3 separate regions of the Homo sapiens genome follow, and regions 2 and 3 are each linked to region 1. The links come from fine-mapping of genetic effects on gene expression. A gene starts in region 1. Each other region holds a variant in brackets. All regions are shown on one strand. Distances are from middle to middle.

Evidence for each region. PIP is the estimated chance that this variant, and not a neighbour inherited with it, causes the effect.
Region 2: its variant is fine-mapped to the expression of DGAT1 in whole blood (TOPMed, PIP above 0.99).
Region 3: its variant is fine-mapped to the expression of DGAT1 in whole blood (INTERVAL, PIP 0.96).

The regions. Positions count from the first base shown.
Region 1 is chr8:144,322,146-144,332,294 of GRCh38, reverse strand. DGAT1 (diacylglycerol O-acyltransferase 1) reads left to right here and starts at 5,443. Exons shown (of 17, transcript NM_012079.6): 1 at 5,443-5,858. The coding sequence starts at 5,659. SCRT1 (scratch family transcriptional repressor 1) reads left to right here. Exons shown (of 2, transcript NM_031309.6): 2 at 1-1,730. RefSeq lists enhancers at 1-427, 8,308-8,367 and silencers at 143-432, 5,017-5,736, 5,747-5,816.
Region 2 is chr8:144,275,141-144,285,289 of GRCh38, reverse strand. It overlaps BOP1 (BOP1 ribosomal biogenesis factor), which reads left to right. Exons shown (of 16, transcript NM_015201.5): 3 at 8,986-9,066. Among named protein-coding and RNA genes, the nearest start is that of BOP1, 11 kb to the left of the region's middle. RefSeq lists a silencer at 7,433-7,482 and an enhancer at 9,781-10,149. The variant C/T (reference allele first, on the strand shown) is at 5,107.
Region 3 is chr8:144,252,723-144,262,871 of GRCh38, reverse strand. It overlaps MROH1 (maestro heat like repeat family member 1), which reads right to left. Exons shown (of 44, transcript NM_032450.3): 34 at 7,894-8,059; 35 at 7,167-7,363; 36 at 3,958-4,095; 37 at 3,518-3,632; 38 at 2,815-2,961; 39 at 2,498-2,686; 40 at 2,040-2,195; 41 at 1,831-1,965; 42 at 1,656-1,758; 43 at 1,523-1,588; 44 at 946-1,217. The coding sequence ends at 1,132. BOP1 (BOP1 ribosomal biogenesis factor) reads left to right here. Exons shown (of 16, transcript NM_015201.5): 13 at 1-19; 14 at 200-284; 15 at 369-476; 16 at 555-827. The coding sequence ends at 708. It overlaps MIR7112 (microRNA 7112), which reads left to right and starts at 135; the gene lies at 135-199. The variant AAAAGG/G (reference allele first, on the strand shown) is at 3,444.

The sequences.
Region 1 (10,149 bases):
CCCTGGGGGGGTTGCGGACGCGTCGGGTTTCTTTTTCTGTATTTGTACGTTTTATTTATGAACGGATTGCACTCGGGTCAGGGAGGGGGCGCTGAACCCCCATCTTGCCCGCCGACGCCGGGGGCCTGGGATGTCCGGGATTACTTTCCACGCCCCGAGGCCCGCCCCTAGCTGGGAGCCTCTAGGGAGCCTCAGGCCCCGCCTCTCCGAGGCAGGCCCCTCCCCTGAGACCCAGGCCCCGCCCCTGAGACCCAGGCCCCGCCCCCACTCGGTTGCCAACTTTCGCCCGTCTATGCCAAAGCCTCGGCGGCGACCCCGCCCCAAGGGCCCGCCCCATTGGCCGCCGCCTTTGTGACGTCACTGCATGCAGCCCCACCCCTCCTCCCGATCCTACCCGGGGCTGCCCGCTCCCCCTCCCTCTTAGGTAGTCCGAAGCCGACTATAGAGCAATAATGCGCACTGCATGCGAAGCTGCCGCCGCCTCTAGAGTTACTGAGAATCAGGTATCCCCTCGCCCTACCCACCCCATAGGCCCCTAGATCAGGGACGCTGCGCGGGGCCGGCCGCGCAGACTTTCTCCCCACCCCTCCCCGACCCCCACGGCAGAGCCCGGCGGCTGTAATGGTTCCATGGGCGGGGGTGGGGTGGTTGCCCCCAAGACCCCTCCTTCAGGCATTAATCATTCACTGACCGTTCATTGAGCACCTACTATGTGCCAGGCCAATTGCTGAGTCCGCCAGGAGCGCAGCCACCTGCTGGGAGGTGTGTTTGCAGGACAGGGGTCCAACCGGCTTGGGTGGGCCAGGGAAGAACGGCAGATGCAGAGAGACCAGGTCCCTAGGTTCACATGCCCCCTACACTCCTCCCCACCTCAACCAGTCCCTGCTGGGCACAACTGGGCTCTACCTTTGAGTTAGGCCTTTTGACTCCAGCTGAGGGGGACAGATCCAGGGCTCCTGGGCCCCCACACAGGTGGCCACTTCTCTGATCCTCTGGCCAACACACATCTGCCATGTCCAGCCAGGGGCAGAGCCATGGCTGGAGAAGAAGGTGCCAGCTGTAGCCTATGGTGTGGCCAGCCTCACCCCCAGCAGCAAGCGTGGCTGCCCCCACAAGGATGACCCACCGCTCTGCACAGCAGTGCCCACATCCAAACACCCTACACAACCAGGTGTGGTGCCTGCACAGCTCCCAAGCTGGGGCCTGCCCACCTGTGCCGCATGCACACGCACACACAGGCGCCCCCACCTCACCCCACCCCATACTCCTGTCTACCTACCTAAGGAGAAAGCTGGAGGGCTGTGGGCCCGTCAGGGTCTCCTGCTTCCCCCTACACCCCGCCGCCGTGGAAAGCCATGGGCCCCCTCCCGCCCCCATAACTAAGCAGCACAATAACCGACTTAGCGAATTCAGGTAGAAGGAACGTTTAGGTAGCACCTATTTTGTACTGATTCTACAAGTAGGGCCCGAGGTGCGGGGGCCCTCGGGTGGGGGCTGCGGCCGCCGGCCCGCCCGCCCCCACCCCCGCCTGTGCCCCGCCGCCTTGTACATATTCCCACCCGGAATAGGCCGGGATTTTTACTCGGGCCGTGCCCCTCTTCCGCCCCCATTTGGGGCCAGGCCGGCCGGACAGACGGACGGACGGACAGACCTCCTTCCTAAGCACAATAGCACCAGCTCCCCGGAGCACCGCACCTCCACAAGGAGAATAAATGCCACTCTTGATAGAATTTGGAGTGTCGGGCTGATGTGTCCTGGGCTGGGCCCACGCTGTTGGGTGGCTGGGAGGGTCTTCCCAGTCTGGCAGTACCTCAGAGGCTGGTGCTGCAAGGGTCAGCCTGAGGCCTTTCACAAGACGGCCCTCTTCTTCCACTGGGGAGGGCAGGCTTGGCAGGCCCAACCACAGGAGCATCAGGTCTGAAGGCAAAGTAGTTGGCATTTCCCCTGGGGTAGGTGGATCTGCTCCACACCAGGAACAGGAGCACTAAGGGGTTCCAGTCTAAAGTCAGGCCAAGCCCACGGTTGGACCAGAGTGGGCAGGGTAGGTATAGTAGGAGCTGCTGTTCCCCAGCCTGGGTGCCTTCGCTCTTCTCTCCCTGAAGGAGCTTTATGCTGTGATGGAAGGCCTGATAGCCACCTCAAGCCCTCTGAGATGCTGTTGCAGGAAATGGGGACAGTGGAGAGTTCGAGGTCTGGCCCTTTTCCTGTGGCCTGCTGCCCACATTCTGACCCCCAGGCTTCCCAGATATGCTCCCCCAGTGTCTGCGGATGCCTCCATGGATAGCTGGGTTGGACCGGTTCCAGGGAGGAGGTGCCCAGGGGGCAGAGAGGCTTCTGCAACCATCGCCCAAGGGCTCTAGACAGAATGAGTAGTGGAGGAGATAAGGGACAGGGACCCTTTGCCCAGCAATGTCCCCTGGTAACCAGGTAGGCAGGCATGAGCCGAGAGGCCCAAAGTCTTCGGGCACATACATTCAAACCAGGTCAGTCCTAGATCCAGGGCCAGCAAAGCTGCCCACACCCTAGCAGGGACAGGGGACAGACCTGCCCAGACTCCACTAGGGTGGAGAGCAGGGGAACCAGGTCTGCAGCATGTCATGGCCTGTGTGCCTGGCACTTGGAGGAGCTGTGGTGCAGGTGGGTGCTCTCTTTGGGAGAGCACTACCAGCAATGACAATGGCAGACAGCAATGGCCAGGAGGAAGGCTCCTAGCCTCACTCCTTCCAAAGGACTCCAACAGCGACTGGCTGTTTCTACTTCTCCAGGATTCTGATGCGTAGAGTGGGTGGAAGGATGGAGGTGGCCTCCCTGAGGCCTGGGATGAGCTCGACCCCCCAGTTCCTCCCAGCCACAGACACAAGTTTCCCTCTGAATGAGCAGCACAGGCCATAGACCACCACTGGCTGTGAACTCTCCTGGGACCCTTGCTTCTCACAGGCCTTCTTGGCCCACCCATGGCCCCTAGGCCCTGGGATCAGCCTGAGGCCCCAACCCACTTCCAGCCCTTTATTCCACTAGCCCTGGAAGGCAACTCGCTTCGGGCTTGGGCCCCCTCATTTGTTGCTGCCCCCAGCAGGGTGATCTGCATCATGCTTTCCTCGATGACCCAGCCATACACACCCTTGTCCCCAACCAACCTCACCTACCCTGACCATTCCCCTCACCCTAGATCCCAGGGTATAGGGCCTGTCTGGGCAGGGCTTCACCCACCTCTGGAGCTGCTGCCCCGCCACGCCCCCACCCCCGGTGGCAAAGCCCTTCCTTAATGGCCCGCCCACAGCCAGTGCTTTCCCCATTGGCTCCAAGCCTGGCTCTGCTCACCAGGCCCGACCCATCCTCCCTGGTGGTCCAGTCCACCCTCCCATTGTCTTTCTCCTGTGGCCACTTGCCGGCTTTGAGTTGGGACGCGACCACAGGTTGAGTCGTTGATCTCCTCTGCCTAGCATGAGGTGCTCCGTGGCCAGGTCCAGACCTCTCTGAGCTTGCTGTCAGTCCATACTCAGACAGGTCTGGGCCTACCTGGCCACAGAGTGTGTCTGCCAGCGACTGCATTCAACAAATGAATATTCTGAGAGACTGGGTAGGAGATGGGGCTGGTCCTGACCGACCAAGGCCCATGTGTGAGGGGCTCTTGGGTCCAGTGAGGGCGGCCCCACTCGGCAGGCTACACAAAGGGCATCTGCCAGGTAGCTCCAGCCTGCCTGATACCTGGTTGGCAGCAACCCACAGCGGCCTGTGGTGACAAGAATATGTCACCAGGGGGGCAACCAAGGGGGCAGCCCTGCTGGCCACTGTTGGTGGAGGTGGTGGAAGAGGACGGAGCTCAGAGGCGAGGCTGTGACCAGCCCACGGGAGAGGACCCCACCTCAGGAGGAGCACCTGTTTGCTTCCAGAGAAGTGCTGCTTGCCCCTGCTCACCCCAGAGGAATGAAGGTGTTTCTAGAGTCAGAGTCCTCAGTGAACCCTGGCATCCTGAGATCCAGGATGTTCTCACTCCATGCCCTGTGCAATATGCACACCAAGCCAAGGTGGGCCGCAACTGTGGCTGTTACAGTTGATTAGTTGCTTCATTTAACATACAAGATGTCTGGGGCAGTGGCTCATACCTGTAATCCCAGCACCTTCAGAGGCCGAGGTGGGAGGATTGCGTGAGGCCAGGAGTTCGAGACCAGCCTGGGCAGAATAGCGAGACCCCCATCTTTAGAAAAAATAACAACAGGCCAGGCGCGGTGGCTTGCGCCTATAATCCCAGCACTTTGGGAGGCCGAGGTGGGCGGATCACGAGGTCAGGAGATCGAGACCAGCCTGGCCAATATGGTGAAAGCCCGTCTCTACTAAAAACAGAAAAATTAGCTGGGCGTGGTGGCACGCGCCTGTAGTCCTGGCTACTCGGGAGGCTGAGGCAGGAGAATCGCTTGAACCCAGGAGGTGGAGGTTGCAGTGAGACGAGATCGCGCTACTGCACTCCAGCCTGGCGACAGAGTGAGACTGTCTCAAAAAAAGAAAAAAGAAAACAAAAAACAACAGGGCGGTTGCACAGGCCGTGCAAATGCACAGAAGCCTCTTGAGTCCCGGCGATCCAGCGGCCCAGACTTCTGACATCCTGGAGAGGCTGGCCCACGTTGGAAACTGGGAGGCCCTGAGAGTTGAGGGACGTGGAGCTCCTTGTGGAGAGAGTGGGTGGGCTGAGAAGACACCACCAAGGGGCCTGCGCCCTCGCCCTCGCCCTCGCCCTCCTCTCGCCGGGCTCTGCAGGCGGGGAGGTGGAGAGCCTGGGAGTCGCGTGCAAGGCAGGCGTCCCGGTGACGCAGGGCCTGGTGCATTTCTCCAGCTTGGTCTTCTGACCTGGCCCTTGTCTGACGTCCCCCTAAGGCGAAGAAAAGCAGGTTCCTGCCGGGGTAACCAGAGGGCTCGCGGAGCAGAAGCGCGCCAGGGACGTTACTGTAAGCTGCGTGCGCAGAAACCAACGCGCTGGGTGGCGGGCGACGCGAGCCGCCGCGGACACCGGCCCGGACAGCTGGACCGTGGCGCACTAGGCGCTTCCTAAATGATTGCCCGGAGTGACTCGCCGAGACCCCGTGTGTACACAAGTGGGACGAGGGGCGGGCGCACAGCGGCCAGGAAGTCGGGGCCCAGCGCACCCCTCAGCGGACCATCCCGCTCCGTGGGGCCGGACAGGACCCCGGGACCACGCGGGAGCGATGCAAGGTCCGTTCCCGCTGCGCGCACTTGCGGCCCGCAGCCCCGGCCCTGGGAGCTGCCACGGCTCCCAGGGTGCTCTGCGCCGGTGCGGCCGCGGCGACTACGACTCCCAGGGTGCTCTGCGCCGGCGCGCCCGCGGCGACTACGACTCCCAGGGTGCCCTGCGCCCCGTCAGCCTCTCCAGGCCCCGCCTCAGGTCGGCCGCGGACTACAAATGGACGAGAGAGGCGGCCGTCCATTAGTTAGCGGCTCCGGAGCAACGCAGCCGTTGTCCTTGAGGCCGACGGGCCCGACGCGGGCGGGTTGAACGCGCTGGTGAGGCGGTCACCCGGGCTACGGCGGCCGGCAGGGGGCAGTGGCGGCCGTTGTCTAGGGCCCGGAGGTGGGGCCGCGCGCCTCGGGCGCTACGAACCCGGCGGGCCCACGCTTGGCTGCGGCCGGGTGCGGGCTGAGGCCATGGGCGACCGCGGCAGCTCCCGGCGCCGGAGGACAGGGTCGCGGCCCTCGAGCCACGGCGGCGGCGGGCCTGCGGCGGCGGAAGAGGAGGTGCGGGACGCCGCTGCGGGCCCCGACGTGGGAGCCGCGGGGGACGCGCCAGCCCCGGCCCCCAACAAGGACGGAGACGCCGGCGTGGGCAGCGGCCACTGGGAGCTGAGGTAGCGGAGCGCCTGACCCCCTAACCTCTGACCCAAGGGCCCCGCGACTTTCCGGGGTTGGCCGAAGCGCGAGCTCCGAGTCCGAGAACATGGGCCCTGGGCTAAGCGGGGATCGGTGTGCCCTATGGGCCCTGTGGGGAAACTGAGGCTTGGGGAGAGTCACCTGACAAGGTCACTGGGTAGGGGCTCTGGAGCTGGCCTTGGCCAGGCAGAGGGGAGCCGGCAGGTGTCCCGCATCCAGATCCTCTTGGGTCTGTGCATCCTCAGGGGCTCCTGAGGAGCTTTTCGAGGGGCGGGCTGGTGGGGGCCCGGCCCTGGACAGTGTCCCCTTATATGGAAGGAGTCAGATAAGATCTGGGCAGTTTGTGGTGATAGGTTCCTTCTTGGTGCTATGAGCGGTGCCTTGCGGGTAGGAAAGGCTCCCAGAGGAGGGCTGGCCTGCCAGGGAGGGGGCCAGAGGAGCCCAGGCCTGTCCGAGGACAGGGGAATCAGCAGCTGCCCCGGACAAGGGGCAGTGTTAGAGGCGTTCTTGTCCTTGCAGACCCTTCTGAGAGTGGCTGCGTGGCCCATTCATTGCTCCAGTGGTTAGGCTGGCCTGGAGCCCTGCCGATGTTGCCAGAGCCAGCGTCTGTTGTAGGGACAGAGAGTTGGGTTCTGTGTTGGGACTTCCATCCTCCAGGTGGGGAGTGGGGTATGGGGGTGGTGGACACACCTGCAGGCGTGTGCCCTGCTCAGCTGGATGACTGACAGAGAGGGGTGGAGGGAGAGAACCATGGCCGATGGGAAGGACTTGGCCAGCCTGGGCATTGGCTTCCTCCACCAAGCTGGCCTTGAGCAATCCCCTTGCCACCCTCCATCCCCCCTTTATGGCCTTTACCCTGGCCCAGGGGCCCTCAGGGCTTTGTTTTAGAGAGCAGCTGAGGGCCTAGAGGTTATCAAGGCAGAAGTGGGCTGATTTTGGACATGTAGTTGGCAATGATTTGCTCTCTCAGTGAGCAAGAACAGAGCTTTCCTTCACGGGGCACCATGGGGAGGGGGTTGGGGGAGGGCAGGCACTGTCGTGGCCCTCAGGGTGCTCAGTTCATCTGGGAGATAAGATAACCTCAGCGAGAGTCAGGCATGGAGCAACATGGACAAAGGTCGGGCACGGAGGCCTTGAAGGGGCCGTGGGGAGGAGGGTGGCCCTCCTGAGAGGGGTGCTTGCCTGCTGTGGGCCTGGGGTGCTGGTGAGGGAGGCTGGCCTAGGCACCTCCTACCTGAAAAGGAGGTGTGGCTCCTGGAGTTACCCTCTCTCCAGGAGGCAGGGGGATGGCTACATGACCTGTGGAGGACGTGGGAATTGAGATTTCTTTTTTTTTCTTTTCTTTTTTTTTGAGACTAGTTTTGCTCTTGTTGCCCAGGCTGGAGTAAAATGGCACATTCTTGGCTCACTGCAACCTCTGCCTCCCAGGTTCAAGTGATTCTCCTGCCTCAGCCTCCAGAGTAGCTGGGATTAGAGGCGCCCACCACACCCGGCTAATTTTGTATTTTTAGTAGAGATGGGGTTTCTCCATGTTGGTCAGGCTGGTCTCGAACTCCTGAACTCAGGTGATCCACCTGCCTTGGCCTCCCAAAGTGCTGGGATTACAGGTGTGAGCCACCGCGCCCGGCCGGGAATTGAGATTTTTTTTAGTGTGAGATGAGGGTAGTCCCAGCTTTGGGCCAAGCCGCCACCTGGGGGTAGGCAGGGGAGAGCAGTCACCTTCTTGCTTTGCAAACCAGCAAGGCTTTCCTGTACTTCTGCTGGTGTGGGATGGGTGCAGAGCTCGTGGGAGAGGCCTGGTGAGTCCCTGTCCCTGCCGTGGAGGTCGGGTCTCCTTGGGAAGAGGGGCAGTAGATGGAGAGGTGAGGCCTTCATGGGGCTGGAGGCTGAGACCAAAAGTCTATCTGCTCCTGGGTCTCCAGGACTTGCAGGCTATGTGTGCTTGTCCCTCAGACCTAGGGATGCAGCAGGGCTCGGCCACTGGCTGTGGACACTGGGCTCTTCTCCCTGCTGTCTGCGTCAGGCCTTGCTCTGCCTGCCCTCCTGGGACTTGGCCTCTAGCGCACCCCCTTGTCAGCCTCACAGCCTCCCCTCCCTCCAGCTTCCTGCTGCTCTTGGCCCAGCCCAGCCTTTCCTCTCCCGCTTCCTCATTACTCCTTGAGCTCGGGCCTCCTCCCCTCACGGACACTTCCTGCTCACCTAGGGCTGGGCTCTGGGTGTGAGCTCCTTTCTTCCGGCCCCGTGGCAAGGTGAGGCTGTGAGGCAGGCAGGAGAGGGCACCCCTTTCTGCTCTGCTTGTGGCTCACTCCTGCCAGGCTCTTTGCACACACCCACCAGCCCTCTGCTCACAGGCACCCCAGTCGGGGCCATCCGGTTTCTGGCTTCTCCCAGGGTGTTTTGTCCCTGAGGTGTCCTTTCTGACTCTCCCTTTCTCTCTCCAGCAGGGTCTGCGAGGTGCAGGGAGCCTGCCCCAACCATCTTGAACCCAGGCCCAGCCCAGAGGCCAGAGTGGAGGAGGCGGCAGTGAGCAGAGCTGGACTCTGCCCCCTCCTCATTGTGCTTGGCCCTGGAGCTGCACTGTGTGGGCCCCAAGTGTGGGACTCACTGGGACCTGTGCCTTTGGGCACACTTTGAACCTGGAGACAGGGTGGCGGGTGGGCATGTGCCAAGGTCTCAGTGTTGCCGTGAGACTGAGAGGATCCTGCTGGCTGGGTGGGCCTGGGGGCTGCAGGAGGGAGGGCAGGCTGCTCCGAGTCTTCTTGGACTAGGGAGTGGGTGTAGGGACAGCTGGAAGGTGCAGAGGCTTGGGCAGATCCTCCAGTCAGTGAGAGGGTGATAAAGGTGCTCTAGGCACAGGGGCAGATCCCACCTCCCCATGCCGTTCCATGCAGCCTGCCCTGTAGCCCACATGCTGCTGGCCGCACTGACTGCTTGGAGCTCTGTGGGCACTGGTGGACTGGGGCTTCCTCCTCATGGGGGCCTGTGAGGGGTAGGGGTAGCGCAGTGGGGGTGCTGCCTCTGGGTGGGGCTGGTCAGGCCTGTGAAGGGCCTGAGGTGAGGCTGTGGCTGGGTTGAGGAAGGCCTTGGAAGCCTGTCAAGGGGCCCCTGAGAAAGCTTGTGTAGGATTGTCTGCAGTGAGCTTTGGGAAGCACCACCCTTTCCCGACTCCTGTTTTCATCTTGGAGATGGGCATGGATAAAGCCAGCATGGTGTCCTTGGTGGCTCAAAGGGGGCAGGGGTCATACTGCTGTGAAACAGCTGTGGTTGGTAGGTCGTGGTACAAGAAGGCCAACCCTGAGGCTTGGGATTGTTCTGCTGAAAACAAATGGGCTCGAACTTGGGGAAGAGGGGGCAGTGGAGAGGCCCCCAGACAGACAGCCCAGAGAGGCTGCTGGGCAGTTGGGCCTCGTGCCCCTGCTCCCGTCACGGTGCTGGGGCTCTGGCGGTGTCTACACCCAGCCTCCTGGTTGTGGGCAGGCAGTGAGTGGAGTAGGCTGGGGAGATGAGCCAAGGGCGGTGGTCAGTTGGGAAGACAGCTGCCAACTTGGGGAGGAGGGAGGCTCTGGTGGAGACCACAGCCTCACTGCATGGCCCAGGATGGACCTGGTGGGTGGATGCAGGGCGCTCAGGCTGGAGCTGGGAGAGGCAGGGGCTGGGTGGAGCTGCCTGCCCCTGTGTTCCAGTCTAGATGGGCAGAGGGAAAGGTGTGAGCATCCTCCCTGCCTGGGGGTCTTGGGGACTAGTGTAGACTTGTCCAGGAACTGTGTAGGTGTAGATGGGGCATGTGTTGCACCAACCTTGGTCTTGGGGAGCAAAGGTTGGGCTTGTTGGCATTGCCTCTCGGCCTCCCTGGCCCTTTGCCTCCTGGGCAGGGCCGTCTGACTGCCGACCCCAATCCTAGCCAGCTTGCCTTGGGTGCCCTGAGGGCGTCTGCCTCATGGGGCTCCTGCCATGGCTCTCAGGCCCACTCTCCCTGCCTAGGGGCTCTGAGGGGCAGATGTGCGTGTGCGGGAGGGAAAGGGAGGCTCTGGCCTCTCCTCTTACAAAGTTGAGGACTTGCTCAATGCTGTGTGTGGTGTCCCAGTGGCACGGCAGATGGGGGGTGAGGCGGGCCTGCAGCTAGTGTATATGAGCCAGCACTGCTTCCTAGGACGTGTGGGGGCCTGGCCAAGCTCTTGCTGTCCTTGTCCTAGCTATATGGCAGTCCCTCTATTGGGCTGGGTGCCCTCTTCCACCTGTGCAGTATGCTGAGGACCAGGCAGGGTCTGC
Region 2 (10,149 bases), 47 kb after region 1:
CATGCATGTGTCATGTCACGGACACCTCAGGGACACACGAAGTCAGGCAGGGCGAGGGCCTCACTCCCCAGGCCGCCTAGCCCTTGGTGGGTATACCCGGCCCCGATGGTGCTGTGAAGAAGGGGCTGTGTGACTGGCATGGGAGGGAGCTGCGGCTTTTGTTCATCTCTGCCATCCTGGCAGCGATGTGGCTGATGGGTCACCTTCAGAGAGCCTCCTCCATAAATCTGATTCCAAGTGTGTGCCCCAAACCAACCCAGACCGGCCCGGGGCGTCCTGCGGAGAGCCCCACAGTGGGAGGCCCTTGTAGCGGGGAGCCCGGTGACTGCTGGGGGTCAGCTGCTGGCGGCCCCTGTGGAGACCTGGCGACCTGCCAAGGGCTCCGGACCTGCCTGGGTGGACCCAGGGTGGGCGTGCTTCTGGCTGCAGGGCCGGGCCACAGGCTTCCCTCTGGCTTTCTGCCCTCAGGCCTTTAGCATTGACATGCACACGACCCTGCCTCCTTTCTAAGGACTGTGTAGAATTACGTGGCATTCAGTGAGCAGCTGCACGTGGTGTTCTAGGGCACCTTTGGATGCTCAGGTGCTCCTGAGGGGTGTGCCAGGGAACGAGTCTCCTACCCTTCCCTCCTGGCTCCTGTTGCTGCATCCAGGCAACTACTGTTTCCAGTGCTGAAGTCTCTTTCCAGGATGTTCTAGACATATCCAAACTCGCACAGAGTTTTTGAATGGTGGTTTCTTAAGAGAAGGGGCAGCCGTGCGCTGTCTCAGGATGGTTCTGTCAGGGAGGCCATGGCTCTGGTTTGTACAGTGCTTGGTGCCCGTAGAGTGCCTGGCAGCTCGGCCTCAACAGCTCCAGTGGGTGGGCAGTTGCAGGCTTTTGCTCTTACAGTTGACCTGACAGTAACATGCTGTTTCTCACATGTGCACACCATTCTTGGGGAAAATTCCAAGAGAATTTCTAGGTCAAAGGATAAATGCTTTTTTTTGTTTGAGACAGGGTCTCACTCTGTCACTCAGGCTGGAGGGCAGTGGTGCGATGTTGGCTCACCAAAATCTCAACTTCCTGGGCTCAAGGGATCCTCCTACCTCAGCCTCCCTGGTAGCTGGGACTACAGGGTCCCCGCCACCATGCCTGGCTAGTTTTGTTTTGTTTTGTTTTGTTTTGTTTTTTGAGACAGAGTCTCGCTCTGTCGCCCAGGCTGGAGTACGGTGGTGCAATCTCGGCTCACTGCAACCTCCACCTCCTGGGTTCAAGTGATTCTCCCGCCTCAGCCTCCTGAGTAGCCGGGATTACAGGCGCCCGTCATCACGCCCGGCTAATGTCTGTATTTTTAGGAGAGACGGGTTTCACCATGTTGGCTGAGCTGGTCTCGAACTCCTGACCTCAGGTAATCCACCTGTCTTGGCCTCCTGAAGTGCTGGGATGACAGGCGTGAGCCGCCGCACCTGGCCATCAATGCATTTAATTGTGAAGGTGCTTGGAGCGTCCCTCCGCTAGGCGGTGATGCCATGCACTACTGCAGCCGCCCCTCAGCTGCTTTCCCACCACCAGCCTCCCTCATGGTGTTGCTGCTTCATCTTTTCCTCTTGTTTAGTGATGTTTTTCTTTCATTAAGAATGAGGCTCGCACAGCTGGGCTTAACTGAAAAAATAAAAATAAAAAGAATGAGTCACAGGCTGGGCCCAGTGGCTCACACCTGTAATCCCAGCACTTTGGGAGGCCAAGGCAGGTGGATCTCTTGAGCCCAGGAGTTCAAGACCAGCCTGTGCCATATAATGAGACCCCATTTTTACAGAAAATTTAAAAAATGAGCCAGGCATGGCGGTGCGTGCCCGTGGTCCCAGTCCCGGAAGCCCTTCTGTCTCTTCCCTGTGGCGGCATCATCCATGCACTTAGCTGGCTGGAAACCCTCATGGCTGTTGCCCAAGGGCAGGACAGCTAGCTGGTTCTTGTCATTTTGGTCTGAGCTCCCTGGGCCAGGAGCCCTTTGCTGTTTTCTCTCTGTTTGTTTGTTTTGTTATCTGGCACCACAACAAACTGCCCCAAACCATGGAGCCTTTCTTTTTTTTTTTTTTTTTTTTTTTTGAGATGGAGTTTTTTTGCTCTTATCGCCCAGGCTGGAGTGCAGTGGCACAATCTCGGCTCACTGCAACTTCTGCCTCCTGGGTTCAAGCGATTCTCGTGCCTCAACCTCCTGAGTAGCTGGGATTACAGATGCCAGCCACCACGCTCGGGTAATTTTTTTTTTTTTTGTATTTTTAGTAGAGAGGGAGTGTCACCATGTTGGCCAGGCTGGTCTTGAACTCCTGACCTCAGGTAATCCACCTGCCTTGGCCTCCCAAAGTGCTGGGATTACAGGCGTGAGCCACCGCACCTGGCCACCATAGTGCCTTTCAACAACGAGCATTTGCTGTCTGTGTTTCTGGGGTCAGGAGTCCTGGTGTTTTGTGAGGTGCACTCAAGGAGCAGGGTCTGGCTGTGCCCTTTGCAGCTCCTCCCCTGACTGTTGGCATGAGGAGCTCAGGAGTGAAGGTGAAGAAGGGTACTCTGTGTCTGGGGGGTGGTCAGAGGATAGGGATGAGGACAGGGACAGGGCCCAAGAAGATGGGGTGGGTGCTGTACCTCCCCCTTCCTTCCCTGGGGTATCTGTGGGCCACGGCAGGGCCCACAGCTGTTGCTAGTAGCCTCCTTGGGGCCAGTGGGTTTGATTTATTTTTGTGTTTGTGTGGTTTGAGGGCAGGCATCCCTTCCCCACCCTTTGCGTCCCTGCTACAGTGACCCCTCTTTCTGGGTCCACCTGCTCTGGCACGAGCTTGGTGGGCCAGCCTCACCCCAGGGCCCACCCCATCTCCAGCCTCCCTGCCTTGGGCCTGGCAGTCCTGCCTCTTAATTGCGTTCTGTGCCACCTGATGACCCACGAGTTCTGTCTCCTGGCCTGGTTCCTACTCCCTGGGACTTTCTGCAGCCCCTGCCCTTCCAGCTGTTGACTGTGTCTGCGAGCCATCCCACTGGAGGGGCGCCCTGGGCTGTGTGCTCCCTGCCCTGCAGCACCCCTGACACGGGTGCTCCCAGCCCTCCACTGACCAGCCAGGGAGGAAGCTGCCTCCTGCCGGCCTGTGCCTCGCTTCCTGTCCCCTCTCCAGCAGCACACGGCAGCGCGGGCCGCGGGCTCACCGGAGCGAGGACTGGTTGCAGGGCCTTCTCTTTATCGCTGGTGTCTAGTGGATCTGTGGGGTCCGTGCGCTCAGAGCTGTTTTTTCCTTTCTGTGCTCATTTAGATTCATTTTTTTCCCAGCTTTGCTTGGTTTTGTCTTTTCATTTATGTGAGTTTTTCTTTTTATTATTTTGTGCAGAAGTTTCTGTTTTTATCAGTTAATCTGCTTGTCACAGTCAAGAATGTGAGAAAAGACTGGATGCGGTGAGCCAAACCTGTAATCCCAGCACTTTGGGAGGCCAAGGTGGGCGGATCACTTGAGGAGTTCGAGACCAGCCCGGCCAACATGGTGAAACCTCATGTGAATTGCTTGAGCCTGGGAGGCGGAAGTTAGAGTAAGCTGAGATCATGCCACTGCCTCCATCCTGGGTGACAGAGTGAGTGGGACTCTGTCTTGAAAGAAAAAAGCACTAGTAAGAGAAGGCCTAAGACCTAGTATTAAAGTAAGAGAAGGCCTAAGACCTGGTATTAAAGTGAGAGAAGGCCAAAGACCTGGTATGAAAGTGAGGGAAGGCCGAAGACCTGGTATTAAACTGAGGGAAGGCCGAAGACCTGGTATTAAACTGAGGGAAGGCCAAAGACCTGGTATGAAAGTGAGAGAAGGCCGAAGACCTGGTATTAAACTGAGAGAAGGCCAAAGACCTGGTATGAAAGTGAGAGAAGGCCGAAGACCTGGTATTAAACTGAGGGAAGGCCGAAGACCTGGTATTAAACTGAGGGAAGGCCGAAGACCTGGTATTAAACTGAGAGAAGGCCAAAGACCTGGTATGAAAGTGAGGGAAGGCCGAAGACCTGGTATTAAACTGAGGGAAGGCCGAAGACCTGGTATTAAACTGAGGGAAGGCCGAAGACCTGGTATTAAACTGAGAGAAGGCCAAAGACCTGGTATGAAAGTGAGGGAAGGCCGAAGACCTGGTATTAAACTGAGAGAAGGCCTAAGACCTGGTATTAAACTGAGAGAAGGCCGAAGACCTGGTATTAAAGTGAGAGAAGGCCGAAGACCTGGTATGAAAGTGAGAGAAGGCCTAAGACCTGGTATTAAAGTGAGAGAAGGCCGAAGACCTGGTATGAAAGTGAGAGAAGGCCGAAGACCTGGTATTAAAGTGAGAGAAGGCCAAAGACCTGGTATTAAACTGAGAGAAGGCCTAAGACCTGGTATGAAAGTGAGAGAAGGCCGAAGACCTGGTATTAAAGTGATGATTCCAGATTTTTTTTTTTTTCTGAGACAAGAGTCTGTCTGTCACCCGGGCTGGAGTGCAATAGCCTGATCTCAGCTCACTGCAGTCTCCACCCCCCAGATTCAAGCAGTTCTTTCTCCTGCCTCAGCCTCCCGCTGTGATTACAGGTGAGCGCCACCAAGCCCAGCTAATTTTTTGTATTTTTAGTAGAGACAGGGTTTTCCATGTAGGCCAGTCTGGTCTCGAACTCTTAACCTCAACTGATCCGCCTGCCTCGGTCTCCCAAAGTGCTGGGATGACAGGTGTGAGCCACTGGGCCCGGCCTTCCCAGATAATTTAAGGAGAGTTTGGCCTGTGCCGGAGCATAATGCACACTCTTGGGCAGGGGATCCCGCCAGCGTCTCAGCGAAGGCTCTGGGAATGGCAGGTGGCAGGCCGCGTTGCTGCAGCGTGGGAACCCTGGGCTCGGGCCCCCTGTCGCTGTGGTTCTGGGGTCTGGGTGCTGGTGCCGTCTGCTGGAGAGTGGTCTGGAGCTGCAGCTCTGTGGAGTCTGGAAAGGGGCTGCCCAGTGATTCTCACCAGCTGGTCAGTGGTGGAGAAGTTGCCTGGGTGTGGACCACAGAGCTGGGGATGGAACCAGGGGCCAGGGCTGGTGGTAAACTCCGCTCTTGCCTCTGCCTGTGGCCTTGCTTTGGGTTCTTTTGAAGACTG[C/T]CAGCTCCAAGCTTCTTGGCCCCCATGGGGGAGTCAGGCAGCTGTTCTGCCACCTGCCCTGACACTTTGCAGCATCAAACAGATATTTTGTAGCATTCTGGATTCGAGGGGTCAGAGTTCAGGCCGAAAGCAGCAGGGTCAGTACACCCTGAGTACAGTGTCATGCTGAGGGGCCGGGGAGCCCCAGAGGGTTCTGGTACATTCCACCTGAGGAAGATCGACACTCAGCTCACATCCTGTGCTCTGGGACTTGGGTGAGGATCTCAGGTGAGCACAGCCGGGCCTCTTGTGTGTCCAGACCGCCCCTGACAGCCATGTTCACGAAGGGTACCCCTGTCCAGCTGTCCCCTCTCCCAGGGCTCAGGGCTGCAAGGACGTGGTCTCCTGTGCCAGGCAGAGCCACACGGCCTTCACGACCTCAGCCCAGAATCCTGTGGTGTCAGTGTGGGCTGCCTCCCTTGGGTGGGTAAAGCAGCCACAAGCCCACCCAGATTTGCGGCGGGGGGGACATAGACTCTGTCTCTTGATGCGATGAAAATCAAAGGTTTGTGGCCGTGTTTTAAAATGGTCACAGTCACCCTTACGCTTGCCAAATAGTCTCTTCCCCCAGCGCTCCCCAGAACCTCATTCCACTGCCAGGGTCTCATCTAAACCAGGCCTGATAGATGGGGGTCCTTGGGCCCCTCTCTGCACAGCTGTCTGCAGTGGGGCACCGAGTCACAGTGCTGTGGAGTGGTCTCTGGTCTGTGGTGGTCCTAAGGTGGCTGAGCACATGGCTGGTGGTGGTCTTGGCCATGGTGGTCTTGGCCCGTGGTGGTCTTGGGGCCTGTGGTGGTCGTGGCCCATGGTGGTTGTGGCCTGTGATCGTCAGGGCCCATGGTGGTATAGGGGACCTGTGGCAGTTGTGGCCTGTGGTGATCGTGGGGCCCATGGTGGTCTTAGGGCCTGTGGCGGTCGTGGCACGCAGTGGTCTTGGGGCCTGTCCTTGAGACCCATGATGGTCTTGAGACCCGTGGTGGTCGTGGCCTGTGGTGGTCTTGAGGCCCATGGGGGTCATGGCCCATGGCGGTCGTGGCCCGTGACGGTCATGGCCCTTGGTGGTCATGGCCCGTGGTGGTCTTGGGGCCTCTGGTGGCAGCACACATGGCCAGTGCCTCATGCAGGGTTGGCCTCCATGCCTGGGAACGACCCTGCCACTCTTGGGCTCCTGCCCCGAGTTACCTTCCTTTTCCCTGAGTAAAAAGGGATGTTTTTCGGCTGTATTTTCTCTGGGCTTTTCAGTTCCTGCTGATGTACTTTCTTTAAAACAAAATGTGGGTTTCCTAGGTACCTGTTGATGAGTCGTTGCTGTCACACGAGCCATCGGCACAGAGCTCTTGGATAGCAGCCTGTCTCTGTGCTGGGCACCCTGCGGCTAGCGTGGGCAGGGCCCTAGGGAGCCTTGGCCGTGCTGAGGTGCTGGGTGTGGGGTCTGTGGTGCAGCGCTGGGTTGTCTTGGTGTCCTTGGCACCCCGACAGCGATGTTCTGGCTCTGGTCTCTGGGCAAGTTAGGACTGCTTCCCTCCTGCTGTCCACGTCTCCAGCAGAACCCTCTTGTGGGCAGCCCTGGGAGCAGAGTTCTCTTCCCACCGAACCGGGACACCGCAGCTCTGTCGCCATCCTCTCCCAGGAGGTGAGGGCAGAGCCCGTGTCTCATGCCTGGTTGGTGGCAGTGGGGCACGGCCTGGCTGGCCTGATGCTGGGGAGGGGAGGCTCTGGTGTGGTCACAATAGGGGGCTCATGCGCTTGGACACCGTTTCTGTCTGGCTGAGCCCACTGTGGGTTTCTCCCTTTGGTCCTCATGGTGACATTCTAGCCCTGGGGCTGGGCAGAGGCCACGCAGGGTTCAGGGACTACAGCAGCCTTTCCTTGGCCCCAGCGGCCCCGCATCCTGCTGGCACCTCGTCCTTGCGCTCCCCCTCGGCGGCTCCCTGCCCACCCGTCGGTCCTTCAGACCCGCCTGCCTCTGCCCAGTGGCGCTCGCCCGCCCACTCTCTCAGCTTTTACTTCACCCTCACGCAACTCTCGTGCTCCATCGGGCCCGACCCCTCCTCAGTCAGGCCACGCACACTGCGGGTGGTGCTGGAGACCCTGGAGAATCCGGGCTGACTCCAGGCATGGGCGTGGCGGGAGGGGGTCCTGTCCCCAGGAGTCCGGAGCGTGGCGTGGGCTCATGTTCCGTTGTCTGTGTCGTTAGGGTTTTGGTGGCCTTTTCCTCTAATTTTTAAGTTAAAAAAAATACGTTCAATGCCCCACAGCATCTGCCTCCAAAATCTGAAGGGGCCTTCTAGGTCAGGCAGTTCCCAGCAGTGGCCGCCCCTGCCCGCACCGCCCCTGCCCGCACCGCCCCTGCCCTTCGGGCGCTGGGCCTGGCTGAGCGCCGTCGCCCCCTGGTGGACTCTGTGCCCCACAGCTGTCCCACGGGGATGCTGCGCCCCTGGGAACCCAGCACCTTCGAAGGCCACCTCTGCCCCCTGCCCAGAGCCTGCCTGTGCCGTGGCCTGTCCACATCCAGCACAGGGGCCACGGGGCACAGAGCGCTGGGTGACAAGTCTTTTGTCACCTGCCAGGACCCTGGGACTGCGGCCCATGAGCAGCGAGGCTGGGACTCCAGCGTGCGGTGCTTCAGCCCCGGCCACTGTGAGGGGTCGGGAGCCCAGCCCGGTACCCGTCCGCAGAGGCCAGGCGGGGGCAGCCGACCGCAGCCGGGTGTGGAACTGCCCTTGTGCGCGTCTGGGGCTTGGGGCCGGGGTCACGGATCTGCTGCGGCTGTGGGGGCTCATGTGCTCCAGGCAGGGGCAAGAGCTCCGTGTCACTGAGCGCCCCAGGCCACTGTCAGCAGCAGGGGGAGACGTGGAAACTGAATCCTTCCTTGTTCCTGGCCTGGGAAAAAACTTAGTCTCCCATCTCTCTTTATATTGAAGGAAAAAACAGGCAGGGGAGGAGCCCGGGCCGGAGAGAAGAGGGGCTCGGGGTGGGGGCGGGGGCGTGCCCGCCTTCGCTCTGGGGTTCCTGCGCCCGAGCACTTTACTGCCCCCACGGGTGAGAGGTGGGCCTGTTTTCCCCATCAGCCTTGGTTCCGCCAGTAAACCCGATCCGGTTGGAGCCATCCTCACCTCCGCAGTCGAGGGCAGAATCTGTTTTCCAGGTTGGGATGTGAATTCTCAGTGGCGCCCACTCTGTGACCCGGCGGGATGGGGTCAGCCTGGGCTGTGGACGTGGTGGGTGGGAGAACGCTGGGCAGGCCTTCTGAGTGTTCGGGGCCCTCTCTGGGCCCTCTGCTGGCTGGACTGGGCGGGACGTGGCCCCCGGGATGGGTGGACAATGTGTGTCCCCCGCCCCTTCAAGAGCATTGGCCCCAGTGACCCTGCTGCGACGGCTGCGTCTCCTTCTTCCCCCCGACCATGCTGCCCCCGTCCCAGGCGGGGCTCGGCAGGAGCGCCATGTGGGGCCCCTGGGAGGAGTCCTGTGGCTTTGACATGAATGGGGGTACGGGTGGTTGGCGGTGGGTCTTGGTCCTCAGCTGGCGGCTTTGCTCCTGACTGCCCCAGTGGCTTCCGTGTCTAGCCTGACACCCGTGTCAGCCCAGGGACAGAGGCCCCGGGAGGCTGCAGTCCAGCCCTCACAGAGGACAGGGCCGTGGGCAGGACCTGCGGCGCCGGGTGCCAGCCACAGCCCCCAGAGGCCCCCTTAGAGCTGGGTGTTCTCGGCCTTGTGCTGAGGCCTGTGCCAGGCTGGAGCTGCTCAGAGATTTCGGGGTGGTGGGCTTCCTGGGATCCCCCCAAGGTCAAAGGGTACCCTGTATCCCCTGAAGTGACCATTTTCTCTCTCTCTCTGCAGGCCAGCACTCCTTGCCCGAGGACAGAGATGGCGAGCGCCCGGATTGGGGATGAGTATGCGGAGGACAGCTCTGATGAGGAGGTAGGACTGGGGCTGCTTCCCACTGGGCAGGGTGGGGCGGCTTCCATCACAGCCTAGCAGGTGCTGGGGGTTGGGGCTGGGGTTGCCCTGGGGGTGCTGGGACCTGCCGCAGGTGGGCCGCACTGTTGGAGCCGAGGCCCACGTGGGCGTCCTGCTTCCCCATCTGCAAGAGCAATTTCGGGGTCTGGGACACAAGACTGCAATGTATGTGTGTCATCATGGCTTGTGAAGGGGAAGGACCTGGGTGTGGCTCCATGCCCCTGTGTCTGGCCTGTGGACGGGCTCTGGGGGCTCCTGTGGCGTCTGCAGGGTGGCTGTGGGCTCCCTGGGCGTGGCGTGCATGGTCTGGGTGGGGGTCATGGTCGGGGTGGGGGTCACGGGCATGGGTGGTGCCCCTGTCGTGTGTGCTGTGGGGTGGGCCACAGGTTGGCTGGGGGCCAGGCGGGCAGAACAGGGCCAGGGCCACCTCCTAATGTCCTGATGTTCTGGGCAGTGGTGGCCCTTCCCTTCCCCTGGGGTCCCCCTGCCCCCCACCCCTGGTGGTGGCTGATGTGGGCTGGGGCCGTTGCCTCTGGACCTCTGACTGAGTCCCAGGAGCACATCTCAGGAGGGGCAGGAGGTCGGCTGTTTCTCATAAGGAGCTTGCAGGCGAAGGGGGATGCGTGCTGCTGGGCTGGGCTCCACCAGCGTGGAGAGGCTGGCACCGGGCTGGGCTCCGCCAGCGTGGAGAGGCTGGCACCGGGCTGGGCTCCGCCAGCGTGGAGAGGCTGGCACCGGGCTGGGTTCCGCCGGCGTGGAGAGGCTGGCACTGGGCTGTGTCCAAGAGCAGATTTGGCTGCGGGGGGCTGCCCTCATTTGGGAGGGGCTGGAAGCTCTGAGAAGCTCTGAAGCCAGAGGCAGTGCCTGCCTATACCCTCCTCAGTGTGGCCTGGCCCCAGGGTAGGACTGTGGTCCCAGTGGAGCACCTGGGTGTGAGGCAGAGTCTCCTTTGGGCCCTGGGGGCTGTGGGGGAAGGAGAAGGCTTTGGTGTAGGGCCTTCCTGAAGGAGCTCTTCCTGCCTGCCTGTCAGGAACTGTCCCCGGG
Region 3 (10,149 bases), 69 kb after region 1:
CTGGCGGTGCACCCTGCAGGTGAGGGGTGGGGGCGGTGCACCCTGCAGGTGAGGGGTGGGGGGGGGGGCGGTGTACCCTGCAGGTGAGGGGTGGGGGTAGGGGCAGTGCACCCTGCAGGTGAGGGGTGTAGGTGACGGGCAGGGCAGTGCACCCTGCAGGTGAGAGCGGGAACACCTGCATCACAGCCTTTGGCCCTAGGTGACAACGTCATCTGTGGGAGCTACGATAGCAAGCTGGTGTGGTTTGACCTGGATCTTTCCACCAAGCCATACAGGATGCTGAGGTGAGGAAAGCTGGGGGTGGAGGCGGCCAGCAGAGCCCCTCCCTTCAGCCCGAGCCTGCCTTCAACCTGGTTCCCTCCCCCCAGACACCACAAGAAGGCTCTGCGGGCTGTGGCCTTCCACCCGCGGTACCCACTCTTTGCGTCAGGCTCGGACGACGGCAGTGTCATCGTCTGCCATGGCATGGTGTACAAGTGAGTGCTGACCCTGCCTGGCCCCCTCCCCAGGGCAGTGGTGTCTGGCCGTGCCCTGAGCCCTCCTCGTCCCCACAGTGACCTTCTGCAGAACCCCTTGCTGGTGCCCGTCAAGGTGCTGAAGGGACACGTGCTGACCCGAGATCTGGGAGTGCTGGACGTCATCTTCCACCCCACCCAGCCGTGGGTCTTCTCCTCGGGGGCAGACGGGACTGTCCGCCTCTTCACCTAGCTGTTCTGCCTGCCTGGGGCTGGGGTGGTCGTGCTGAAGTCAACAGAGCCTTTACCCTGTGCTGCCTGGTGCTCCCACCTTCTTGAATTGGGGTTGCCAACAAAGCCGCCCCCACCACAGCGCCGAGCCTTCCCCTCACTCAATTTTGCAAAAACAGTGGGGACAACACAGCCAGTCCAGGGCACCCTCTGGCCCATCCCCTAAGAGGCTCAGCATCGCACCCTGTCAGTCACTCGCTGGGAGCAGATGAGTTTATTGGGCACATCCCTCACTGAAGGGCTTGGGTTTGGTCCCCAGCAGTGCCTGTTCTGGGGCCAGGCCCCTCCAGTCGTGTGCCCAGGCTGTGGTCCTCAGGAGGCCCTGTCTTGGAGCTCAGGCACAGGTCTGGGTGCATACTCCTCGCTGGGGGTGCTGGCCGGAGCCTTAGGCGAGCTTCACCAGGCGGCCCAGGGCCTCAGCAGCCCTCGTCCGCACCTCGGGGGCCGGGTCCTTCAGCAGGATCTGGAGCGCTGGGGGTAGAGGAGGGGGGCTGCCTGCGGGCTGTGACCTCGGCATGCCCATGCCTGCGCGTGGGCCACGCTCTCCTGACAGCCTCTGCTGGGAGGCTCAGGAGCCAACGGAAAGATCGTTTTTCCTTTTTTAGTGTTTTTTAAGCTCTTTTGGAACAGTTAAGAAGTTTCCGTGAATTACTAGAGACGATGAGGTCACCAGTGACAGGGAAAAAGTCCTGAAATCCAGGAAAATCACTTAGTCCCTGCGGGTGCCTACAGGGTCAGCAGGGCCCAGCGGAGGGGCCCCGTGGAGGGGTGCTCACCCGCAATGAGCTGGTCCAGGTCCACCTGCGGCTGCTGCCTGGGCTCCGAGTGCAGCACCAGGAACCCTGTGAAGTGGGGGCATCAGGCGGGGCTGCCGGGCGGCGTGGGGGTGGGGCAGGGGGTGGTGCTTACCGGTGAACAGGGGTGCAGCAGCTCGGACGTTCTCCCAGCTGCTCTTGAAGTAGAACAGGCAGGTGGTCAGGAGACGGCCCAGCAGGTCTGGGAAATGGTGCATCTGGGGAGAGGCCTGGTCAGTGCCGCCTGGCCCCGCCCCACCCACCACGCCCCGCCTGGCCCCACCCCTCACCAGGTGCTTGCAGGTGGTGTTGAGGAACTCCCCGAAGTGCAGGGCTCGGCCCTCCTGCAGGTGTTTCTGGAAAGCAGCTGAGAGCTCCTCACATGCCAGATTGGGGCCACACATGCGCAGGGCAAACCTGCAGGCCTAAGGGATGCGGCACTGGGGCCAAGTCCAGTTGAGGCCACCCACCCCATCCCACTCACCCCCTGGCTACTCACGCTGGCCACGGTGGCCTGAGGGTCCTGCAGGTGCAGCAGCAGGGGCGCCAGCCCGCCCACCACCTGGTCCAGGAAGACGTCCTCACAGTCTCCGTGGCAGACCTTGTTAAGGTGCCCAAAGAGGCGGATAGATGCCGTCCGGAACTCCATCTTCTCCTGGGAAGGACATGCAGCATACGTCTCCTCACAGGCTGTGCCCCTGCAGGCCTGCCTGCCTAGCCCCCTGCCATTGATGGGTGCCCTTGCCTGACCCGGGCCAGGAAACACCCCGACGGGTGGGGGCCTTACGGGTGGGGGCTGCCAGGCCCAGCAAAGCAGCAGCCCTGCAGGTCCGCGCTCTCCACGGTCACCTAGCCGAGGTGGGAGACAGGGAGGAGGGTGGGGCTGGGGCTAAAGCTCAGAGTAAGAGGCAGGAAGGGCTGGGGCCCTCTTCCCTCCCCCTGCCCCAACCAGCCTACACTGTCGAAGAAAGGCCGGATGCGGATGGCCACGTGCAGCAGCCCTGAGCGCAGGTCCCAGGACTCCACCAGGTGCACCAGCCTCGCAAGGCCCAGCATGGCCTCCAGGGCCACTGGGCTGTGAGGGTTGTCCCCGTCGTCCAGCCCGCCAATCATGGCTGTGAGGAGCTGGGGGCCGTGGGTTCGCACCTGAGGATACCTTACACTCAGCCTGGGTCCCAGAGTCACCGTCTGCTACCCCACAAGACAGGGTGGCCTCCATGCACAGCCCCCCACCCATGCTGCCTGGGACCCAGAGGGGCTGGTGGCCACCCCACCTTGTCAGGGCAGCCGGAGGCCAGGTTGGCCAGGCCGCGGAGCACCAGCCTCCGCACGCTGGCGCATGTGTCCTTCTGGCGAGCCGCCAGGCTCTCCAGCAGCGAGTCCAAGAGCATGAGGTCGTTGGCCACGTTGCTGTTCAGCAGCTGCAGGCAGAGGTGCTGTGACTTCCCTCTCCCCGCTGACCCCAGGGCTCAACCCACCAGCCCAGGCCCAGAACACCAGAGGCTGTCCCCACGCCGGTGTGGCAGACAGAGGTGGAGCACCTACTCCCTGGGTCTCCGATCAGTGGCGACCCCTCCCTGTTGTGCCGCTGGGGCCTGCTCTGACGCCCGCTGTGCTCTGCTGCACGGCCTTGGGCAAGATTTTGGCATCTTTGGCCACGAAGGCCAAGACCACACCACCAAGGGCACCTGGGGTCCCAGGGGCCAGCCCTGTCCAGCTACAAATGTACCCAGCTGGACTTGGGGAGAGTACAGGCTGCAGGGAGCCTCGGTCCTCCTCTCACCAGGCACAGAGGGGGTGTCCCTGGGTGGGACTGAGTGAGTTCTGGCATGGGGGAGGAGGTAGCTAGCATCCACATAACCTCCCTCACAGACCACGGTCGAGGGGGCCTTTTAGGGGTAAG[AAAAGG/G]GCATCCCGTGCCTGTCCTGAGCAGGAGCCCCACCTTGGTGCCCAGCATCCGTCCCTGGAAGGGCCTACCTCGGCCAGGAAGGCGGTGGTGGTCACCCTCTGGTTCTCATACGCACTGCTGTGTGTGCATGCCAGCGTCTTCAGCACCAGGGGGAGTCGGGGCCCTGCGTGCTCAGCCATGGCCCTGGGAAAGGGGGCCGCTGAGGGTGCAGGGGCTGTTGCTGTGCTGAACCCTACCCAGGCACCTTCCACCCTGCACAGCCCTGGTCCGCTCCACCGCCAGCTGCCAGGTTCTGGGAGTTCTATGTTTCAGAGATGCCTCCCAGCTTGCCTCGCCAGGCCTCTGCAGGGGTGCCTCCCTACCCCTGCCCCAGAGAGTGAACAGGCAGGAGCCCAGGGCACCATTGGCCTGACACGCATGGGCCCCCGCCTGATCCTGTCATGTTCTGGGCTCGAGATCCGGTGGAGCCCAGCCAGTGCTGGAGCTGCAGTGGGCTGGGCCCGCTCACCTGGCCAACCTGGTGGCCCCCTCCTCATGCCCCGCCGAGGTCCTGAGCAGTTCCCAGCCTCCCTCCAGGTCCATGCGCTGTACCACATCCTCGCTGCCGCTGCGGAGTAGCATGGACCGCAGGGTGTCCACTGCAGAGCTGCAGGATTGCCAGGGTGCTCAGCTGGTAGGGCACACACGCCTACCTCCCTTCCTGATTAACTCCTCAGGTCTGCACCCAATGCGTGTTGCCCACCTGGTGGCTAGCCCTATCCCTGCCAGAGCCACTCTCCAGGAAGCAGGCTCTGGGCCATCTGCTAGAGGCCCCCCATTTCCCCACCCAAGGCAAGGACGCAGATGTTGGCTTGGAGGTGAGCTAGTAGCAAGGTCAGCCTGTGGCCACCTGGCCACCAGCCTGAGAGCTGGACACAGGCAAAGCCCTCTGGCTGCACCGGCCTTCCTTTCCGGACACCCAGACGCTGCTGGGCACCCACACCACAGGTGCCCCCCACCCCGGGCCTGTTCCTGCCTGGCACCTCGGGTTCTCACACCTGTACCCCAGGAGACTCCACAGCCCTCTGGGAGGCGAGCAGGCCCCTGATCCACTCCCAGTGTCGGCTGAGGCTGGCTGGCAAGTGAGCGGGAGGATGGTGCCGAGAGCTGGAGGGGCTGCTGGCGTGCTGAAGAGCAGGCGCCCTGGGCGTGCAATGGGGGCCACCTTGGCCAACTCTCTGACTCCCCAGACCTCCACCAGGCAAGCACCTTGCCCTCTGGTCTCCCTGGCAGTGGCTGGGCCAGAAACTGGCAGGGAGAGTCTGATGTTGAAGCCTCTACAGGGCCCAGCTTGAGCCTGGCATCGACCATCGGCTCAGATGAGCCCTTCCCTGCTGAGGCTGCTCCACTCCTGGCTGCCAGTGGGTGGGGCGTAGTGTGTGACCCAACAGGCACGGTCTGGGGCAGAGGATGCCCTGCACCAGCGTCCCCACCCAGCAGGACCCTCCATTTCAACTCCACAGCCCCTGCCATGTGGCTTTCCGCTGCCCTCGAGCACCTCACACTTAGGCCCCCGCCGCCTTTGGACCTCTGTCCCCACAAGGCTTCGTCCTCAGGAGCACCTGGCCCAAAAGCAGACAACCCCCGAGCGGCACGGGCCGTGTGGTGACCGCTGGTGGTGGTGACAGTGCCACTGCCCTGGTCACCTCCTGCCAGGTGTCCCACAGGGCCCCTGGTGTGCTGCGACGTGGAGTGGGCCTAGCAGGGAACAAGTGGCCCCGCCAAGCTGGGGGCCAGGCCCTACTCGCCTGGATGGTGTGTGAGGCCCTCATGCAGGTGGGATCTAGGAGGAGGGTGTGGTGGGCACAGGAGCATGAGACAAGCTTGTTAGAGATCTGGTGATGGGCCCCATGAGGCTTCTGGACGGTTGGGTACACAGGGCTGGTGATGCCGGCAGGAATGAGGCGGCCTGAGAGCTGGACAGGGGCTGTAGGAGCTGAGGGCCACGGGGGTCTCGGCAGCCCAGGAAGGAGGTGCTGGGGGCCTGCTCCCAGTATACCACTGTCCCCATGGGGTGTGCCTGGGTGGTCTGGTGCTGACCAACAGCAGGGCCAGCCCCTCACACAGCCCTTGATGAGTGTCCCCAGGCTCCTCTCTCTCACGGGTTCCCTCCCCAAGGTCGGACGTACGAGAAGGCAGCTCTGGAAAAGCCTGGAGTCCCATGGTTCCAGTGTTGGGGCCTGATCTTTGAGCCCAGGTAGCCTGGGTGCCAAGGGGGCTTCCAGCCCTGGGAACAGGACAGCCAGCACTGACCACAGGCAGAGGACAGAGCCACACCAGTCACTGCAGTTCCTGGGAGATGCCCTTGACACATACAGGCCAGGCCAGCCGCAGGCGGAGGGAGGACCCACCGGGCCACAGTCAGTTCAGCTGGGCCTCATGGTCTGAGCCAGGGCCTCATGGTCTGAGCCAGGGCCCAGCTTGAGTGCAGCTCTGCCTCCAGCTCCACACCCTGCTCCAGGCCTCGAGCCCTGCAAGGCCCCATCTGGACCAGGGGCTGCGCTCCAGGCTGCAAATGGCGCAGGCACAGCAACTCACAACCAGCTTCGACAAATCTAACGGGAAGCGTGTGTTTGGCTCACGAATGTGTTAGTGATTTGGATGAGGGTGCCTCCCTTGTTTGTGTGCCCAGGACATTTAAGAATGTGGCACCCACAAGGGTCCGACCCACTGGCGAACGGCCTGTACACCAGGCTCTGCAATCGTCCCAGTGAAGGGGCACCTGGGGGTGGGCGTGGGGCCCGCAGCCCTACAGCTCGGGGCGGAGGCACTGATTCGCAGCAGGCCAGGCCCAGGGGCTGGTGGCTGCCCCATCCCATTCACATTTTCCACTCAGTTTGCTAGGGGCAGAGCAGCGCTGGCAGCCGGCCCCACTGGGCTTTACGAGCTGGCCTGGGTCTGAGCAGCCTGTGGTGCTGGGGCAGGGGGAGGGGGCTGAAGTGCGGCTGTCCCCCTGGTGTGTCCTGGCCAAGGGGGGCAGGGGGAGGGGCTGAAGTGAGGCTGTCCCCCTGGTGTGTCCTGGCCAAGGTGCACACCCAAACCTGGGCGCCTGGGTGGGATGGAACCAGAGCCCTCCTGGGCAGGTGCGGCATGGCAGCCCTGCGTTCACATGGGCTCGTGGTCCTGGGGTCAGGCCACACAGCCACGCCTGCCCAGGGTGTCAGCCTCCTCTGTCTGTGCTATGGCCCCAGGCAGGTGTGTAGGACCTGGAATGCTTCATGTCAGGCACCTGGGCAGCTCTTACGTGTGGGGCTGTGAACACGTGCCAAAGGCCGCTCTGCTGGGGCAGTTTCAGGGACAAAGCTGGTCCTGCCATGGTTGACCCCAGCCTATACCCCAAAGACTCCACACAACTCCACTCCCAGGAGAAGGCACCACCCGGATCCTGCCTGAGCTGCCACACGAAGCCCCCACCAGCTGCCTGTGTTCAGCACCACCGTGCAGACCGCCCGCAGAGGCGAGGAGGGAGGCCTTCACAGCCAGTGTGAGAAGGGTGGCCATGGATGTCACCACTGACAGCTCAGCCCTGCACCTGGGTGAGGCGCCAGCTCCCTGGAAGCAAAGTCACTCCCACACTCCCCGTGGTTCAGATCTGCCGTCCGCCCCCACCACGCGCGTGCACACGCATGCCTGTGCTTCCGAATCAGTACTGGAGGTGGGAAGTGGGGACCCAGATACCTGCAGGGTTCCAGGTTCCTGGTGGCTAGGGCTGGACTGGCACCCCTCCTTTCCTGGGCCTGCAGGTTCCGGGGCAGCTGGACACCCACGGTGCAGCTGACGCGCAGCAGAAGCACCACAAACAGCTGGGGGTAGAGCTCGAGCACCGCGGGCCCCGCTGCAGGCGTGGACATGACCTCAAACAGTGCACAGGTAGCCTGGGGGAGAAGTCATCACAGGGCCATGCCTCCCTCCAGGCCGCAGGAGATCTGAGCCCTGCACCCAATGAGACTGCATCCCCCTTCGCCTGCATCATGTGCTCGGAGGTCTCAGATCCCAGCTGCAGCGCAGGAAGGGCGAGGCGCACCACTGCATGGCTTGGCCCTCAGGGGTAGAGGCAGGAGACAGGGACAGAGGGGCAGTCAGCCTTCACAGGACAGACCTCAGGCCATCTGTTCTCAGCTCCTCAGAAAGGAGGAGGAGGGAATTCTCACAGCTGCTTTACTGCTTAAAACACTGCCAAGCTGGGTTTATTTTTTTTCCGCAGGATAAAACATGAAGTGGCCTCCCCTGGGGGCCCACACCTGTGAGGCCTTTACGAGCCTGAGCTCAGAGCTCCCAGCCCGGTGCTGCCTCCAGGTGCCTGTGGGGTGGCGTCCGGGCCACCTCATCAAAAGGCCTGCCCCCGGGCACCCAGGCAAGCGGGGCAGGGACAGCGTGTCAAGGTGGCCCCGAGAGCCCGACTCACCGAGAGAGGCAGCAGCGTGGCCACGCGGTCTGGGGTGCGGCCCAGCAGGAAGGCCCGGCTCTCCTTGAAAGGGACGTCCCTACTCATCTTCTCCAGCAGCAGCCCCAGGACCTGGGCAGCTAGGCGAGGCTCCACCGCCAGCGCCCGCCACAGCATGCAGGTGTGGCTGGAGCAGAGCAGGAGAGTCACTTTGAGGCCGTGGCTGGTCAGGGCGCCTGCCCCCCGCCACCTGGGTGCCGTGGACCCTGGCTCCACGACGCTCAGACACAGCCACCAGGCTCAGCTGCAGCCAGCTGGGAAATGGCCTCTTGGCCTCAGATCTGAGCTCACCCCTTCCCCTGACTCCAGGGATCTGTAAACAGAGCTGGTAATAAAGGACACAGAGAAAAATCTGGGCCTATACACACAGGGCCCAGGGCAGTGGTGTGGGAGGTCCCTGGGGAGCTACTGGGAGGGAGAACAAATCTTCCCTGGAGGAAGCAGCATCTGGCCCAGGCCTCAGGACGTCACAGGGTCAAAGAGCGCAGCTCCCAGGGAGACCTGGCAGTGCTGCCAAGAACACTCAGATGGCACCGCAGACGCACCGTGAGGCAGCTACGCTCAGCGTTTGCAGAAATGAACAACAAACTCTGAATATGACGGGAACTGAAAATTCTAAAAACAGATACAGCAAATTTGAAAGAAAACCAAACAGCTCTTTTAGAAATGAAACACTAATGTACTCAGTGGACATATTTGGTGCCAGTCTAGATACAGTAGAAGAGAGAAACAGTAAATAGGAAGATTAAGAACTTACCCAGTGAATAGGAAGATAAAAAAATTTCAGATAAATTATTACAGAGAATAACGTGGGAAGGCAGAGGACAGAATAAGGGACGCGGAAGATGGAATGAGGGCTAACGTACATTTGATGGATGTCCCAGAGGCAGAGGAAACAATGGCTGTCAAGGAGTAGGTTGGGGTTTTCAGAACTGGTGAAATATACTGACCTACAGACAGGGAGCCCTGAAGCCGCCTGGCAGAACAAAGGAAAAGCAACCCCCACCTGCAAACTACAGATGAGCAACAAGCAGGCAGTGGCTTCCTGGACAGATGCGGTGCTAGGAGACTTCACCTGGCTCTCAGGAGCAACGACAGAAGCCAGAAACAGTGATGTGCTGTCACACACCTGAGCAAACTCCACTGAACTAGGATACTAAGCCACGGAAAGAACAGTCACAAGGGATGGCCAAATAAAGACATTCTCAAGTAAACAAAGGCGGACAGTGTGTCACTGATCCTTGTGGTGGGAATTCCAGGAGCGTCCTTCAAGCAGAAGGCAAGCAGCAGAGGGCTGGGCGTGAGTGTGGGGAGCAAATGACCTGGCAGGAAACGTGGACAAATGCACAGGAGGGCAGGCACACAGCACGCGCCAGCAAGGACGCGGTGGCCGTCGCTGAGGCGCCAGGAGGCCACAGACTCAGCCACTGTGGGCCCCCATGAGGCTGCATACAACAGCCAAGCCAACCTGTGCCCAGGGAAGGGCTGGCAAGCTTCTGACCAGGACAGACAATGGCTCAGGCCTTGGGGGCCGGGTGGCCTCTGGCAGCTCATCAAGCCTGCCGCTGTAGTGCGAGAGCAGCCACAGACAGCGTGGAAGTGGACGGAGCGGCTGCTTCCGGAAGCTTTAACTCATGGACACTGGAATCAGGATTTCCTATCATTTTCACGTGTCATGAAATATTCTTTTTGTCTTTTTCTGACCATTTATGAATGTAGAACCCATCCTTAGCTCACGGGGTGGCAGGGTAGAGATGGCCACAGTGACTCCACTTCTTTTTTTTTTGAGACAGAGTCTTGCTCTGTTGCCCAGGCTGGAGTGCAACGGCGCGATCTCAGCTCACTGCAACCTCCACCTCCCAGGTTCAAGCGATTCTCCTGCCTTGGCCTCCTGAGTAGCTGGGATTACAGACACGTGCTGCCACGCCTAGCTAATTCATATATATATATATATATATATGAAATAAATTTTATTTATTTTTTGAGACGGAGTTTCGCTCTCGTTGCCCAGGCTGGAGTGCAATGGCCCAATCATGGCTCACTGCATCTTCCGCCTCCTGGGTTCAAGTGATTCTCCTGCCTCAGCCTCCCGAGTAGCTGTGATTACAGGCAGGCACCACCACGCCTGGCTAATTTTGTATTTTTAGTAGAGATGAAGTTTCACCACGTTGGTCAGGCTGGTCTCGAACTCCCAACCTCAGGTGGTCCACCTCCCAA